Linked DNA regions of Homo sapiens. The protein of the gene in region 1 purifies or fractionates together with the protein of each later gene. This does not show direct contact. Each region holds a gene or a part of one and is shown on either strand. Other genes may lie near its edges. The genes, in order: VCPKMT and UBXN6.

Region 1 (5,739 bases):
ATCACTTGGCTCCAGGAATTTGAGACCAGTCTGGGCAACATGGTGAAACCCTGACTCTACAAAAAATACAACAAAGCTAGCCAGCTGTGGTGGCGCACCTGTAGTTCCAGCTACTAAGGAGGGTGAGGTAGGAGGATCACCCAAGCCTGGGAAGAGTAGGTTGCAGTGAGCCAAGATTGTGCCACTACTGCACTCCAGCCTGGGCAACAGAACAAAACCCTGTCTCAAAAAAAAAAAAAAAAAAAGAGAAAGCAGGAGGGCATAAAAACTGGAGGGTGAAAAGACATTTAAGGAACCTGGGTGGACTATTATAGTCAAGGTCAAACTTATTTTTACAAATTTCATGTTATAAAACAAGCTAAAAAGTGGTCATTTGTCCTAAGACATCATTAATAACAGCTAGCACTATCTGTACCTCACAAAGCACCACAGATTTAGGTTACACTGCCTTGCAAACTGCTTAATGAAATGCTAAGGACAGTATGAACAAAGTATCTTGGCGGGGGGGAAACCAGCAAAGGAAACTTTTAAGACTGAAATAAACCTGAAAGGAATGAACTGATTTCTTGACTTGTATCCTTAATGTCTCTAAATAGGGCTGCTTTTGCTCCTGTTAACTGTTTAGATGTTCACTTTCTTCAAAGGTATTTCTGAAATTCACAGTCACAAGGTCTCAAAAACAATGTTTATTTTAACACATAAAATGTACCATCTAGCACCAATGCCTATAAATACCAGAATTCCATCCGGTTACTACTCTTTGGAACAAGTATGATTAAAGTCCTTGACAGATTATTGTATATGAGCGAATGGCTTCATAACATAAAACAGAGAGACACAGAACAGAAATTCATTTGGTATATACATATAGAACTACATTTGTAGTTATTCAAAAACCTTTCACTGCTTCATGTAAACAATACCAGTATTTTTAAGCCAGATTTTCCTGGAACATATACATAAAGTGCATGAGCCACGTAAGTGCATAAGCCTGAAACTGGTCTTTCTATTCTCACTCCATGCTCAAATGAAAAATCTGTAAAGATATCTTTTGTTCCTCCAATCTTCTGATTTGTCTTCTTAGCAACTCATTACAGTACAATTTACTGATTAAATCACATAGATATGTATGGTGGAGGAAAAGAAAACTTTGGCTAATATAAGTATACAAGACAATATCTCAGTTCTTTTTAAAATTAAAAGAACATTTCAGTATTAAAGATATTTTAAAAGAAATGAAGTGGAAAATACAAATGATAAATATTGTATAATTATGTACAAAATGAAAACCTTTTAAACTCTGAAGACAAACTAAAATTTACTAGTTTGAATTTAAAACATTATTATATAATAGCAGATAGTTCTCTTCAGAAATTTATCTCTAGCTTCCTGTAAAAGGTCCAGTCAAATCATGTTGGCTGTTTTTGGCAGATTTCAGCCTCGCCTCAATACCAATTTTTATTTGAATAACTGATTCCCAACATTTAAGAAGAACTTGATGCTGAACTAAGTAACCTAAGCTGGATTCAGGGCCATTGGCAGGCAGGCAGGCAAGCAGGAATTTTTCGTATTGCAGACAGCCCCTGGTGGTCATCATCTATACATCGGATCTCTAAGGACGTGCCGGAAAAAAAAATCTGTGAACACAATCTTCCCATGCTGTATTCACATGCTCTATTCACATCTTTAGTTTACCCAGGTTGTTAGAGCCTTGGGTAAGATGATTAAAGGCTTCACGATGGAAATTTCTATAACAAAAAAAAAGGAAACTTAAAAGATTGATTTACCACAAACTATTTACTGGGTATTTAATAATGCCTAATATGCCTCATAATGCCTAGTATGCCTAGTATAACAGTGGCTACATGCAATTCAAGTGAACAACCATGCATGTTTATAGATGGTTCTTTGCTGACACCTAACAAGCAACTGAAGAAAGAACAGATGCATTGGACATTATCAAAATTAAAATATATGTGCTTCAAAAGACACAACATAGGCCGGGTGTGGTGGCTCACACCTGTAATCCCAGCACTTTGGGAGGCTGAGGTGGCAGAGCACTTGAGGCCAGGAGTTCGACACAAGCCTGGCCAACCTAGTGAAACCCAATCTCTACTAAAAATACAAAAAAATTAGCTGGGCGTCGTGGCACATGCCTTTAGTCCTAGCTACTTGGGAGGCTCACACAGGAGAATCACTTGAACCTGGGAGGCAGAGGTTGCACTGAGCCAAGATCATGCCACTGCACTCCAGACTGGGTGACAGTGCGAGACTCTGTCTCAAAAGAAAAATAAGAAAATAATAAATTAAGAAAATACAAGACACACTATTGAGAAAATGAAAAGACAACCCACAGAATGGGAGAAAATATTCACAAATAATGCATCTGTAAGTGTTTAGTATTCAGAATGTATAAGGAACTCTCACAACTCAAAGTAAAAAGACAAATAAGTCAATCTGAAAATGGGCCAAGCATTTCTTCTAAATACAGAAAAGATACCCAACATCATTAGTCATTAGAGAAATGAAAACCACAGTTTAGAGACTATCTCATACCCAGTGAGATGGGTATAATTAACAAATGTTGGTAAAAATGTGGAGAAAACTGGAACCCTTATACACTGCTAGTGAGAACGTATAATGGTATGGTAGATTAGGAACACAGTTTGGCAAGTCTTCAAAAAGTTAAACAGAGTTCCCATATAACCTTGCAGTTCTCCTCTAGGTATATACTCAAGAGGTCTGAAAACATGTTCACACAAAAATTTGTAGATGAACGTCCATAGCAGCATTATTCATCTCATCAATGGATGGATAAGGTGTGGTACAGCCACATAAAGGAATATTATTCAGCCACAAAAAGGAGTTAAGTGCTAATGTGTGCTACAATGTAGATAAGGCTCGAGAATACTGTGCTGAGTGAAAGAAGACAGTCACAAGAGGCCACACAGTATGTGACTTGTTACATATGACATGTGCAGAATAGGCAAATCCATAGAGATTAGTGGCTGCCAGCAGCTGGGGACGGGGGTAACAGGGAGTGACTGCTAATGGGTAAGAGGCTTCTCTGGGGGGTGAAATCATTAAAAATTAGAAAGTGGTAATTTACACAACTATGTGAATATACTAAAAACCACCAAATTGTACACCTTAAAAGCGTGAATTTTATGGTATGTGAGTTACATCAACTAAAAAATAAGAGTTTTTTTTTTTGGCCGAAAAAAAAAAAAAAGCCTCTATATTTAGGAAACACAAAATCTTTCTGCCTCCAAAAAATTCTACTTTTAAAACTGCACAACAGCTTCAGTTAACACTAGATCCCTTAAAGCACAAAACAGTTTTTTTTGTATCTGTGGCACCATGCCACATAAATGTTAATCTGAATAATCCCGCTGCTGCCTTTTTACTTAGATTTAGTCCTAACACCTACTTCTGTTCCCTAAGTTTTATTTGCTTTTGACTAGAATTCATATAATCAGAAAACTTTACCACAAACATAATCAAAGCAAAGATGATAGAAAAAGTGTGGGCTTATTGAATCTAGCATCCTTAATTCATAAAACTAATCATCTCCCTGCCTTACACTAGTCACATATACCAAAGGTGCTGGAAATACAAAAATAGATGAAAGGCCAGGCGCAGCAGCTCACACCTGTAATCCCAACAATTTGGGAGGCCGAGGTGGGCAGGTCACTGGAGTCCAGGAGTGCAAAATCAGCCTGGACAACATGGCAAAACCCTGTCTCAACAACAACAAAAAAAATACAAAAATTAGCTGGGCATGGTGGTGCATGCCTATGGTCCCAGGTACTCAGGAGGCTGAGGTGGGAGGATCACTTCTTGAGCCTGCAAGGCAGAGGCTGCAGCAAGCCGAGATTGCACCACTGTACTCCAGCCTGGATGACAGAGTGAGACCCTATTTCAAAAAAAAAAAAGGATGAAGTACAATTCTTCCCTCTTTCTACAGGCTCAAACCCTAGGTGTCACTGAGGCAACCTGCATAAAATGTGATTGTTATACAGGGTAAAACATGCACCAAGAAGCGGGAAAATACATAAATTCTACTTAATTGAGTGCATTTATCTTTTATGGACTCATCTGCCTTGTTGTATTTCATTTCCTGTAAACAATTTTTAATAAGGAAAAGTTCACAAAGGTAAGAGCAGGCATTTTAAAATCTCACAGAGATAAAAGAAACTTATAAATAGCTAATAACTTGTCTGAGGTAATACCCAATTATAGAGCTATACAATTTACGCCTATGGAGAAGCTGGAAAAGGCCTTTAAAAGCGAAGCCTGGCCAGGTATGGTGGCTGATGCCTGTAATCTCAGAACTTTGGGAGGCCGAAGTGGGCGGATCACTTGAGCCCAGGAGTTCGACACCAGTCTAGGCAACACGGTGAAACGTGTCTCTACTTAAAAAATACGAGAAAAAAAAAAAAAAAAAAAAAAAAAGCCTGGCTTTAGAGCAAAAACCCAAGGCAAGATAGATTAAATTATCTTGACAATGAAGTTACTGCCTGAGTCCAGTGAATCATTAGAGCTGTTTCTCCACATCAAAATCAACGCCCATACCACACATATGCCCTGAAATAGTGTCCAGCTGATGAAACCTCCTTGGAGAATGAAGAACTGAGAATGTTATTTACCGATTTTTTCTTTCTGATGTATATAATATGAATATCTTCACTTCGATACTCTTCATCATGTTTTTCCAAAGGAATTTTTTCAAAGTCAAAATCTAGCTGAAGGAGCTATAAATTTAAAAGAGACATACTTCAAATTCAATAATATGAACTGACCTGTGGGTGACAGAAGTCAGAATGCTGGTTACTTTTTTTTTGAGAGTCTCACTCTGTCACCCAGGCTGGAGTGCAGTGGTGCGATCTTGGCTCACTGCAACCTCCACCTCCCTGGGTTCAAGTGATTCTCCTGCCTCAGCCTCCTGAGTAGCTGGGATTACAGGCAAACGACACCACACCCAGCTAATTTTTGTATTTTTAGTAAAGAAAGGGTTTCACCATGTTGACCAGGCTGGTCTCGAACTCCTGACCTCATGATCTGCCCATCTCGGCCTCCCAAAGTGCTGGGATTACAGGCGTGAGCCACCGCGCCTGGTCAGTGGTTACCTTTTGAGTATTGCCTGGGAAAGGGCAGTGTGCAAACCTTCCAAGATCCTGAAAATGTCCTCTATCTTTATGTTGGTAAGTAGTTACTTGGGTGTATACATATGAAAAATTAAGCTCAGCACTTGACTGATACATATGCATTTTACATATGCTTTACCCCAATAAAAGCTGTTTAACAGTACGAAATTTTCATTATGCATCATTTCAAAAGTTCATGAACATTTTTCATATTCAAGAAAAACATGAAAATAAACAAACATTTTAGTATTTGTTACCTGAGGCAGTCATATACCTGCTTTCTCATTAAACCAAAGTAGTCCTTCCAGCAGACAAAACTGCAGGCCTATATAGATGTACCCTCAAAAGGAGTCACTCACAATGTGATAGATTTGTGCCCATATAAGGGTTTGGGTGATCACTAGGGGAAGAAGAGTGACAGATACATAAAACCCTATATACTATATTTTGCAACTTCCTGTAAGTCTTTTCTAACTATTTCAGACAAAAAGTTTAAAAAACAAAAAAAAAGACCCTAAAAATAGACAGGTATCTAGGTTGGAGGTTTCATAAATATGTAGAGAAAAACACAGAAGTAAAAACTTATCACTTG
Region 2 (3,592 bases), on another chromosome or scaffold:
GTCCGAGGTGTGCCTTCCACCCGGAGATGGTCTGCTGCCCTCGCGTCACTGGGCCGCTTCTTCCCTCTGACTAGAGGCCAAGTGTGGCTGAGCTGCTGTTACCTGGAGCAGGAGGCACAGAGGGGCCGGGTGGGCAGCCTGGGCTGTGCCCCACTCACCTTCTCCACCTACCCCAGGTACCTGGACAACATCCACCTGCACCCCGAGGAGGAGAAGTACCGGAAGATCAAGCTGCAGAACAAGGTGTTTCAGGTGGGCGTGCCTTCTGGCCCCCGGGGCCCAGGCTGGGGGTGGGGGCAGCTGGCCTGCAGGAGCCGGTGGTGGCCCACACCAGGCGGTGGGCTCCCTGGAGGAGCTAGCGAGAGTTGAGCCACAAGCAGTGAAGGGTTCGGCCAGTAGAAGGTAGCAGGACAAGATGGAGAGCAAGACTTTTATGCACCGGTCACCCCAAATCAACAAATTCTGCCTCTCCTCACCTGCATCCTTTTCCTCCTCTTCAGCTGGGCTTGTTTGGGAACATGTCGACTCTGGGGAGGTTTCTCATGCAAACCAGATGTCTGGTTCTTCTGGGGGAAAGGGCAGGGACTGGGGTCCTGGGCGGTGTTAGCCTCGCATCAGGCCCCAGCAGTGTCTGGCTCCTCAGCCTCACTCTTCGTGCCTGGTTGTGACTCTTTCCTCTGTGCAGAGCTGTTGGAGACTCCACAGCCCCCACCGTAGAAAAGCAGGTTTGCATCCAGCACTGAGGCACCCCCAGGGCTGGGCCCCATCCAGGGGTCGACAGCTGCTCCCAATAGCGAGAGCCGGGCCCCTGGACTGGGTGGGGTGTGGCCAGGCCATGGAGGAAGCCAGGGGCCCCCAGTGACGCCCATCTCCACCCCCAGGAGCGCATTAACTGCCTGGAAGGGACCCACGAGTTTTTTGAGGCCATTGGGTTCCAGAAGGTGTTGCTTCCCGCCCAGGATCAGGGTAAGTGGACAGGGCCTGGCTGAGTAGGGAATGGGGACGAGGGGCCTCGGGGCAGGAGGGCCCGGCTTGGGGGTCTCTCCATTGCACAGTGACACCCATGTCCTGCCACGCTGTAGAGGACCCCGAGGAGTTCTACGTGCTGAGCGAGACCACCTTGGCCCAGCCCCAGAGCCTGGAGAGGCACAAGGAACAGCTGCTGGCTGCGGAGCCCGTGCGCGCCAAGCTGGACAGGCAGCGCCGCGTCTTCCAGCCCTCGCCCCTGGCCTCGCAGTTCGAACTGCCTGGGGACTTCTTCAACCTCACAGCAGAGGAGATCAAGCGGGAGCAGAGGCTCAGGTGGGCCTGACGTCCGCGGAGCAGAGTGGGGCGGGGCGGGGTGGAAGAACCCCGGCCAGCCCTCGTGACCTGGCCCGCGTGTGCAGGTCCGAGGCGGTGGAGCGGCTGAGCGTGCTGCGGACCAAGGCCATGCGGGAGAAGGAGGAGCAGCGGGGGCTGCGCAAGTACAACTACACGCTGCTGCGCGTGCGCCTCCCCGATGGCTGCCTCCTGCAGGGTGGGCACCAACGATGCCCGTGGAGGGCGGCTCGGGTTGGTAGGGGGCCCTGGGCCCCACCCGCTCTGACTCCCCCACTCCCCAGGCACTTTCTACGCTCGGGAGCGGCTGGGGGCGGTGTACGGGTTCGTCCGGGAGGCCCTGCAGAGCGACTGGCTGCCTTTTGAGCTGCTGGCCTCGGGAGGGCAGAAGCTGTCCGAGGACGAGAACCTGGCCTTGAACGAGTGCGGGCTGGTGAGTGTCGGCCCGCAGGAGCACCGCTGACCCGATGCCTCTGCAGGTTCTCCTGGGACCGGCACAGACACCCCCAGGAGGGAGCCTCCTTGTTCTCAGAGCAGGGGGCCTGGGCAGGTCCCTGGGTTTGAATCCTGCTTTCCCACTTACTGGCAGCAGGGCCTCGAGCAAGTTCATAACTACTCCACGCCTCAGTTTCCCCATCAAATGGGAGCGGTGACGTGCGTTAGCTAGTGCAGTAGGTTTAGGCTTAGGTCCTGGAGTCCCGGAGGGAGAGGGCAGGAGGCCTGGGTGCGAGCCACAGCCTCCACCAGCTGAGATGGCTTCCAGGCCGGGGCATCCCCGCGCCCAGGTTGCCCGCTGAGTTCCCTGCCGCGGCAAGGGCCGACTCTCGGTCTCAGAGTGACGGCCTACCCCTACCGCAGGTGCCCTCTGCCCTCCTGACCTTCTCGTGGGACATGGCTGTGCTGGAGGACATCAAGGCCGCGGGGGCCGAGCCGGACTCCATCCTGAAACCCGAGCTCCTGTCAGCCATCGAGAAGCTCTTGTGAAATAAAAGCAGGGTTGGCCTCAGCCCTGTGGGTCTGTCTCATGCTCTCCCTGTTCCTCTCCCCGCCACCCCAGGGCCTCCAAGCCACCTCTGGAAATACTTGGCTCTGCCCCATGGGCACGGGAGGGGCGCCAGCCGTGGAGCTGTGGAATTGGGCCCCGTGGCAGAGCCCCCATCCCTTGGGGGCTGTGGGGATGCGCCCAAGCCCCCGAGGGAGAGGCCTGGGGACACCAACAAATCTAAGCCCTCCCTAGCTGCTTGGTAACTGTGTCATGAAGCTGCCGGACAGACACACGTGGCATCTCCCTGGGCAGGAGAGCAGGCCTGCAGCATGGGTCCTGTTCCCGTGTGCCGTGGGTGGCAGTGGCTGCACCTGGCACTAGGGCTGCTCTGTGGATGTGGGTGACAACGGCAGGAGGGGATGCTGGCCTTCCTGCACATAGACCTGCAGTTAGTAAATCATAAGCCCAAATAAACAGGTTGTTTGAATATAGTTTCTTGGTTCTCCGTTGAAACCGTGGGACACAGGGCAGGCCCACCTGCTGAAGAGCGGATGGCTTGGGGGCTGGGTGTGGCTCCCTGTCAAGGTGGGACCATGTGGATACCTGTTCTCAGGCCAGCACCTGGCCACAAGTGCCCGATGAGCCACCCACCTGGGGAGGAAGTCCCGTGCGCTAGGGGAGGCTGTGCTGTGCCCACAAAGGCCCAGTCCCTGCAGGGGAGGCGAGTGCTGTCACAGGCCTGGCTTCCCTGTGGCCAGAGGGACAGGGTGTCCTGAGACGGCCACATCCTATTCCTGGAACCTGCAGATGCGCAACTTCACCTGGCAAGAGGGGCTTGGGTATGATGAAAGGTCTTGAGCTGGGAGATGATCCTGGGTGGTCCGGGACCCAGTGTCCTCACAAGAGGTGGCAGGAGGGTGAATCAGAGAGAGACTGGAAGAGGCTGCGCATGGCTGTGAAGGTGGAGGAAGGGACCCCGAGCTGAGGGATGCAGCGCCTCCGAGCACTGGGAAACTCTCCAGGAGGGCCTGGTCCTGCCCACAGCTTGATGTTAGCCTGGCGGGGCATGTGTGCACTCTGACCCCCAAGCTGTGAGATGGTGACTTGCTTTAAGCCACCAGGTTTGTGGTACAGCAGCCCCAGGAGACACAGGGACTCTGCCCTGCAGTGTGGAAGGCATGTGTGCCCCGGCCCCACTGCTGACTTGGGGATGCAGGTCTGCACCTGGGGGAGGTGCCCGGGGCCTATGCTCGTGCCCCTGACCTTGCATTGGTCCCTCCCTCGCCC

Evidence for each region.
Region 2: the proteins of VCPKMT (region 1) and UBXN6 purify together in Homo sapiens (affinity purification with mass spectrometry; 4 studies listed by BioGRID and IntAct, with this or other methods). This does not show direct contact.

What each region holds. Positions count from the first base shown.
Region 1 is NC_000014.9:50,107,966-50,113,704, forward strand, and holds the end of VCPKMT (protein N-lysine methyltransferase METTL21D), read right to left. Parts: intron 5,548-5,739; coding exon of another isoform or gene 5,545-5,547; exon of another isoform or gene 4,755-5,544; coding exon 4,650-4,754; exon of another isoform or gene 4,121-4,649; coding exon of another isoform or gene 3,977-4,120; exon of another isoform or gene 1,749-3,976; coding exon 1,734-1,748; 3' UTR 672-1,733; downstream 1-671. UniProt on the Homo sapiens protein: Protein N-lysine methyltransferase that specifically trimethylates 'Lys-315' of VCP/p97; this modification may decrease VCP ATPase activity.
Region 2 is NC_000019.10:4,444,210-4,447,801, reverse strand, and holds the end of UBXN6 (UBX domain-containing protein 6), read left to right. Parts: exon of another isoform or gene 1-176; coding exon 177-252; exon of another isoform or gene 253-614; coding exon of another isoform or gene 615-697; exon of another isoform or gene 698-881; coding exon 882-966; exon of another isoform or gene 967-1,082; coding exon 1,083-1,302; exon of another isoform or gene 1,303-1,388; coding exon 1,389-1,519; exon of another isoform or gene 1,520-1,604; coding exon 1,605-1,753; exon of another isoform or gene 1,754-2,178; coding exon 2,179-2,304; 3' UTR 2,305-2,796; downstream 2,797-3,592. UniProt on the Homo sapiens protein: May negatively regulate the ATPase activity of VCP, an ATP-driven segregase that associates with different cofactors to control a wide variety of cellular processes.